Homo sapiens: one gene and its partner. The protein of the gene in region 1 interacts with the protein of each later gene in a biochemical or structural test. Each region holds a gene or a part of one and is shown on either strand. Other genes may lie near its edges.

Evidence for each region.
Region 2: the proteins of NUP50 (region 1) and IPO13 form a complex in vitro, tested with the Homo sapiens proteins (one study listed by BioGRID).

Annotation. Positions count from the first base shown.
Region 1 is NC_000022.11:45,161,982-45,165,927, reverse strand, and holds the start of NUP50 (nuclear pore complex protein Nup50), read right to left. Parts: upstream 2,004-3,946; 5' UTR 1,632-2,003; intron 1,258-1,631; exon of another isoform or gene 973-1,257; intron 64-972; exon of another isoform or gene 1-63. UniProt on the Homo sapiens protein: Component of the nuclear pore complex that has a direct role in nuclear protein import. Actively displaces NLSs from importin-alpha, and facilitates disassembly of the importin-alpha:beta-cargo complex and importin recycling.
Region 2 is NC_000001.11:43,956,950-43,960,549, reverse strand, and holds part of IPO13 (importin-13), read right to left. Parts: coding exon 3,574-3,600; intron 3,356-3,573; coding exon 3,235-3,355; intron 3,149-3,234; coding exon 3,001-3,148; intron 2,574-3,000; coding exon 2,392-2,573; intron 2,309-2,391; coding exon 2,282-2,308; intron 2,090-2,281; coding exon 1,955-2,089; intron 1,805-1,954; coding exon 1,661-1,804; intron 302-1,660; coding exon 221-301; intron 1-220. UniProt on the Homo sapiens protein: Functions in nuclear protein import as nuclear transport receptor. Serves as receptor for nuclear localization signals (NLS) in cargo substrates.

The DNA.
Region 1 (3,946 bases):
CCATTTTCTAGCTGTGAGAACTTGGGCAAGTTATATTTAATTTTTGTGCCTCAGTTTCTTCATCTGTGGAACAGGAAGTATTAAGAAAGTTAAGATAAACAAAGACTGGCTTAGAACAGTGCCTGGAGCAGAGGAAGGGCTTAATAAATTATTAAAGAAACAAGTTTTATTAGAAGCAAAGGCTATAAACTATCATTTTCCCTCCAAAACGTAAAAGTTGTAGCATGGAAGAAGAATAACTTGGATTACAAACCAGATTTTTACAAATATTTTACCAAATCCCTATTTTATTTCAAAGCATGACACTTCAGACAATACATTTTACTTTTATGCTAGAAGTGGGGGGGAGAAAAAACCCTCTGTAAAATATTCAGAACAAGGCCTGGCACCTGGAGTCTTATGTCTAGCTACTGTTATGAAGAACTTAAGGGAGGCGGAAGGATCTCTTGAAGCCAGGAGTTGGAAACCAACTTGGTCTCTACGAAAATAAAGATGGACATAGATTAGATGAATAGAAATAAAAAATTAGCCGAGCGTAGTGGCGCACGCCTGTGGTCCCAGCTACTTGGAAAGCTGAGGCAGGAGAATCACTTGAGCCCAGGAGCTTCAGGCTACACAGTGAGCTACCACTACACTGAGGCCTGGTGACAAAGCAAGACCCAGTCTCAATCAAACAATCAATAAAAGGGAATTTAAAAAACGTTTGCGTTTGTGGGTAAAAAACCAAATTAGACATGATTTCTAGGTATGAAGCAACGTGGTGGGAGACTGAAAGTCTAGGTAAACTGGAAAAAAACATTATTTGTGCCTGATATAGTTATGTGGTCTCTGGCATCTGGTGTAGCTCTGCCCTTGGAAAGCTCAACTTGTCAACATCACCTTAAAACGAAAACACAGATTTGGCTACACTTAATAGTGAAGTGCCTTGTTGGAGGAAAACAACAAGGGGGCCAAGTAAGGAGACAGAAATACCTAATCTCCAAGCTGGTTCTTAATGGAACCGAGCAAATGGGTGATGAATAACCCGGGAACGCAGTAAGACAGGCCAGAGAGGTAATGCGCCCAAGAGAAGAGAGACGAGGGGCGGCCAGGGGGAGAGGAAGCTCGAGAGGAATCGCTAGGAAGGAAACGGAGAAGACCACGCCAGGACAGCCCTGCCAGCCCCCTACCTCCGGCGGGGCCGCAGGGGAGAGTCTCACTCGAGTCGGACGCCGCAGCCCGGTGGGGCCCGGGCCCCGCTTCAAAAACAGCCGGGGCTGCGTCGCCGCTGTCATCCCACCCCACCCTCCACCCGTCGCTCCCCCACCGCGCGCCCCGCCCGGCCCGTGCGCCCGACCCAGGCTCCCTCCCTAGAGTCCCGACCTCTAGCCCTGTACCCCACTTCCCAGGGTCCCGTCCTCCAGCCCCTTAAGCCCCTCCCCAGGGTCTGGTCCCCCGGCCCCGCACCCCTCCCCAGGGGCCCGTCCCCCGGCGCTGAACCCGCACCTCCCTCCCCAGGGTCCAGTCCCCAGCCCTGCACTCGCACTCCCCTCCCAGGCCCGAGCCCGCTCCCGCCCTCCCGGCCCTGGGCTCTCAGCACCAGGCTCCCGCCCTCAGCCTCTTCTCCTCCCGCGCCCGCCGCCGCTCCTCACCTCCTCGGCGGCCGCCGCTGCACTCGCTGGGTCTTGGTTGCGGCGAAACCCGGGGCGCAGCGGCGCAGGGGTCTGGAGCCCGCAGGGGTCGCCGGGCTGAGCGCGCTCGGCCGCTTCCGGTGCTGCGCTGCGGAACTCAGAGGACTTAGTGCTCGGCAAGCCCAGAGACTCAAACACCATATCCCTGGGGGGGCTCCTCACGCTGTGTTCGGCAGGGAGGCGAGAGCGCCGGTTCAGCCAGAGACAGCTGGGGGAACCGCGCCGAACACGCTCCGGGCGGCCATTTTGTAACTCGAATCTACCCCCAAAACCAATTCGAAAAAAAGGGAGGAAAGAAACGCCCGCGTTCAGCTACTGCGCAAGCGCGCCGGCGCTTCCGGCAGTAGCACCTCCTTCCGCCGGCCGGGCCCCTTACGCGGCGCATGCGCCCAGCTCCCTGGAAACCGGCGCGGGGCTGAGAATGCCGGTCTCGCGCAAGCGCGCACGCGCCGACCTTGATCTCGTAGCCGGCGCCAGCAGCCGCGCTTTGGGGCGTCGGCTCACGTGGGGCCGGCAACGCGTCTTCCAGGATGTTCGCGCGCTAGTCGCCGCTGAGGGGCCGGCGATGCGCGAGGAGTTCCGGCGAGGAAGGTCGGTCAGTGGACATGGCCGAGGCCCGCGGTGTCCGCGTGTGGGAGCTGCAGGGCTGAGGAGAGGCCGCCCGCAACCCTCGGGAATCGTGTGAGGTGCCACTGGGGTCGCTTCACATCAGGAGGCCCCGTCTCGGGGGACGCGCGCAGGTGACCCTGCTGGTCGTACCTGGCCGGGGTGGCCCGGAGGGGCTGGGTCTCGGCGCCAGGAGGGGCCGTGTGGGCCGCCTGTTAAAGGACCCCTCGTTCGCTGACATTTGATTTTGCATTGGGTGCCTTCTCTTCTGTTTTTTTCAGCCAGTGAGATCCGTCCTGGGCACTCAGCTGTAGAGCAGGGGAACGAGTCCTGCGCTTTTTGCGCTGAGGTCTCCTGGCCCGTAGGCCAGGCAGCCTCTGAGCTCCTTTCTCACCAGCAGCTTGCGATCCCTCATCCCTGGCCCTGTCACTCCCAGCTGTTTCCAGTGCCGCCCTTTTTTTTTTTTTTTTTTTGAGATGGAGAGTTTAACTTGTTCGCCCAGGCTGGAGTGAAGTGGCACGATCTTGGCCTACTGCAACCTCTGCCTCCCGGATTCAAGCGATTCTCCTGCCTCAGCCTCCCGAGTAGTTGGGATTACAGTCGTGCGCCACCACGCCCGGCTAATGTTTATATTTTTAGTAGAGACGGGTTTTCACCATATTGGTCAGGCTGGTCTCGAACTCGTGACCTCAGGTGATTCCCTCCCCCCGCCCCACCACCTCAGCCTCCCAAAGTGCTGGGATTACAGGCCTGAGCCACCGTTCCCGGCCTCGAGCGCCTTCTTATAAACTGGATGGTGGTTTTTGTTTTCACCTTCAAAGTCGAATCTCCCTAGTCCGTTTATTACCAGAAAGAGGTCTCCACTCAGACCCAGCGAGAGGCTTCTTGGATGTCGCGTAGGAAAGAATTCGGGGCGAGTCCACGGACTAAAGTGAAAGCAAGTGTATTAGAGAAGTGAGAAAGCAAAAGAATGGCAGAGCAGGGCATTCCTGAAAGCGGGAGGAGGAAGGCGCCCGCCTTAGGTACAGTGCTTGTTCAAATCTAAGGTAACACAGCCAAAGAAATCTTGGGGGACATGGGCTCTACCACGAGGGCCCACGACCAAGGTTTCATGCGCGTCCGTGTGAAGAGACCACCAAACAGGATTTGTGTGAGCAACATGGCTGTTTATTTCACCTGGGTGCAGGCGGGCTGAGTCCAAAAAGACAGTCAGCGAAGGGAGATAGGGGTGGGGCCGTTTTATAGGATTTGGGAAGGTAATGGAAAATTACAGTCAAAGGGGGTTGTTCTCTGGTGGGCAGGGGTGGGGGGTCACAAGGTGCTCAGTGGGGGAGCTTCTGAGCCAGGAGAAGGAAATTCACAGGGTTAATCACTTAGTTAAGGTTGGGCAGGAACAAATCACGATGGTGGAATGTCATCAGTTAAGGTGGGGCAGGGCCTTTTCACTTCTTTTGTGATTCTTCAGTTACTTCAGGCCATCTGGGCGTATACGTACAAGTCACAGGGGATGCGATGGCTTGGCTTGGGCTCAGAGGCCTGACACAAGGATTGTTCATCTTTGTTTACTGACTTTGGCAAAGATCTATATTATCTTTAAAGCGAAACCTAAATGAAGAATGCTTTTGATCTTAAGATATTGTTAGGTTTTGAAGGGAAGACGAGAGTTAAAG
Region 2 (3,600 bases), on another chromosome or scaffold:
CTGTCACTCGACCCTAATATTAGAGTCCTTACGTTAAGCACTTCTCATGATATTGGGGAGTTCTAAATGTCTTCCCAAAAGATTCCTTATCTCTATGGGGCAGGATTCACCTCCCTTGTTTTCTCCAAACCATTGTAAGCTGAAGTGTGGCAGTAACATCTTACCCTGCTACACCTCTGAGCAGTCACTATGGGAGCGGAGGGCAAGGGTCAGGGCTCACCTCCACAACCTGGGCATCATTCAACCATTTGCTCAGCACCTTCTGGATAAGCTGGAAGACCTGCTGCAGCACCACCACCACCTGAAGGCACAGGAAGAAGTGAGGCGCTTCTGCTATCCATCACTGTGACCCACTTGAGGAGGACTTGGTGGCAGGGAGGAGGGGAGCAGTTCAGACCTATTACCCCAGAACACACATTGAGGACCCAGGGCATGGGACCCCTGGGGGAAGAAGTGGTTTGCTGAACTCTCTCATGAATGAAAAAGGAGTATTTCCTGAATTCTAGGGATCATCTCAAAGGAAGCCTCAAACTGCAAAGCAGAGATATCACAAGTGCTTCATAAGGTTACAAAAACTTTGTAAACTTAAAAAAAAATCTCTCCCTATCTCTGCTCTGTAAAACCAAGGCTATGGGCTAGCCTCTGAAGAAGTGGAGATGCTATCTCCTCCAAATAGGCTTGAGGTAGGGAGCCCCAAGGAATGCACAGATGCAGGCTTAAGCTGCTCTCCCAGCTTATGGAGGAGCAGAGAGCAGACTGAGGTCCTGGGAGGTGAGGAAAGGCAGGATGATGACTACCATGTAAAGAAGCAGCTCTGTGGGATGACAGTGGCCCAGGGGTGGTCTAAAGCCAAGAGGCTAACTGAAACTGGGTTGGGGAGTTAAGCAGAGAGGCCAGGATGCCTATGGCTTCCTTTTCTCCTGGAGAAATCTGGGAGGGAGTTCTGGGAACAACGACTAAAGCAGTCCCTTATATTTGTAAAGAACTTTACAATATGCAAACTACCTTCACTTAAGACCACATCTACTATCCAGCACAGTTCTATGAATTGAGTAAGCCAGACATTTCAATGTTCATAGTTTTTAATGGGAAGCTGAGGCTTGCCCCAGATCAAGCAGCTTGTAAGTGGTCACCCCAAAACCTATGCCCAAGCTTACCACAGGACTTATCACACTGCTTTGTGACAATTTGAGCAACCTGAATTTCCTCTACACTGGGAGCAACTTGAAGGCCAGAACTATTACATGCGGAGGAGGTAATGAGCATCCTTAGTGCCCACAGGGGACAGTAAATGTTGAAGTAGAAGGCCCTACAGAGCTAGGGGTTGAACAGGGGCCCATAAAATCACTTAAGGGTTGAAGGATATAACGTCAATGTCCCTCATGGGGCTGAGGAATCTCAATGACATCACCCTAATTGGGCTGGGGACAAGGACAACATCACACACAGAGCTGAGTGAGATAATGACATTGCTGCCTACAGAGTGAGGCAATTATAGGTCATTCATGGAGTCAGAGGACCAAATATATCACGCCCACGGGGCAGGGAGAACAATGACAACATTACCCACAGAATTGAAGAGTGACAATGACATTCCCACAGGTGGGGGTTGGGGGGATGGCAAAGACAAATGTCTTTGCCGTGGGCAAATGTCACCCACGGGGTTGGGTCCCTGTGGCACTGGCAGCTTCCGAAGCTCAGGGCCTTCATGATCATCCTCATGATGACTGATGTCCAGTGTGGTGAAGAGGTTGGAGAGAAGCCCCAAGATGTGAACAATGGCCAGCTTGTTGGAGGGATTGGGCTGCAGGGAGAAGCAAACCAAGCTCCAGATCTCCCAGCCCCAGTTTGGTCCCCAGATCACTGAGCCTCAGCTCTGAGGGCCAGCTCCAACCTCACCCCTCATCAGCCACAGCATCTCAGTACCGCTCCCTGGCCCCCAGAGCTCACTCACTATCTCCTCTGCCAGCTTCTCCAGTTGCTGGATATAGGGTGAGATAAGCGAGTGCAGGTTCTTAAGGATCTCCTCCACTTGAAGAGCTGACAGCAGGAAGCCCAGCGCCTGCATCAGCCACATGCACTGGCTTGTCTGTGGGGCAGAACATGGATGGTCAGTCCTGGCCACATCTAGTTGTGGGGTAGGAAGGAAAATGAGCCTCTTGGGAGAAGAAAAACAGAGAATAAGGGATAAGAGGAAGGGGAAGGCCAAAAAACAGGATTTCAGGGATAAGTGATTCCCACAAGACCTCCAAGGAGACCCCTAGAAACTTTTGAGCCGCACCTTGTGGATCTGTTTCATCAGCACATCCTGAGGGGAGAAAGAAGGAATGTAGTATCAGCACAGTGCAGAGTGTGCTCTGAGGCCCAGCACCATCCAGGGCCCCTGCATACCTGGGACACAGCCACAATGTTGGCAGCATAGGGAGGCAGGTCATACTTGCACTCTCGGCAGATCTTCTTGAGGGTGGACACAGAAGAGACAGACAGCTCAGGATTGCCTAGGGCATGCAGTACCAAGGGCAGAACACTGTTGATCATGACGGGGTGGTCAGCCAGCCATTCAGACAGAGCTCCTGGAGGAAGGAGGGAGACAGGAGGATCTTTGAGGCAGGCCAGGCTGGCTTTGTACCATGTCTCTGAGGCAAGCAGAGTTCCTGGCAGGGTCAAGTTGCAGCCCCAGCACAGAGTACTGCCCCATTCAGAGGACATATGCATGTGCATGCTCAAACATGAGCCTTACAGCTGAGAAGCAGGAAGGGGTTACTCAACAGAGGCCCAGTACTGCTGTTTCACTGACGGTAAACTAGCCTCACTGAATTGCAGCTCAGTGTGCCATCAGATGGACCCCCTAGACCTGCCAGGACAGTCAGTTTGTTACAACACTGATTGTGTGTAGGCATGTGGCTCTCCCATTCTGGATAGGATCCAGCATGCTGGCTGTGGCCAGGGTTGGGTGCTGTGGCTCTGGGAATATGGTCATGGGTGTGTGCCAGGTCTCACCAATGGTGAACATGACAGTGTCTGCCAGCTGCACGTTGCTGATGCTGATCCGTGGGATGAGGCCAATGAGCCCAGGCACCACATCAGAATAGTTGACGTCAATGGTCTCTGCGATGGATTGGAAGCCGTAGAGGAGGGCCTCTGTGTGCTGGGGAAAGAGGGTGCCACTGGCTTGGATGAGGAGGAGGGTGTGACAGGTCTGGGAAGGCTGAGGGAATCAGGCTTGGGAGGTACCTGCCAGGAGTAGGGCTCCTCTGAGCTGGTGAGCAAACGACCCAGCTTGTCATAGAGGTTGCTGAGCAGCTCGGCCCCCAACATCTCATAGACATACATGAGCGTGTCTGAGATGTCCACCCTGAGAAGCAGATGAAGGCCTTTTATACTGCCTGGATCCTGACCCTGGATCCTGCCCCCAAGCCCAGGAGCCTACCCCAGTACCCCCACAACTCTGCAACAATACCTAGAAAACAGAAAGGAGCACCAAAATTCAGAAAGCCTGGACTTGGGCCCCTTCCCTCATTGCCTTCATTATTTCTGGACTCCATTTTAGAGGAGTTGGCCTGCTACCATCACCTGTAAATTCGGAACTGCTCCTTCTCG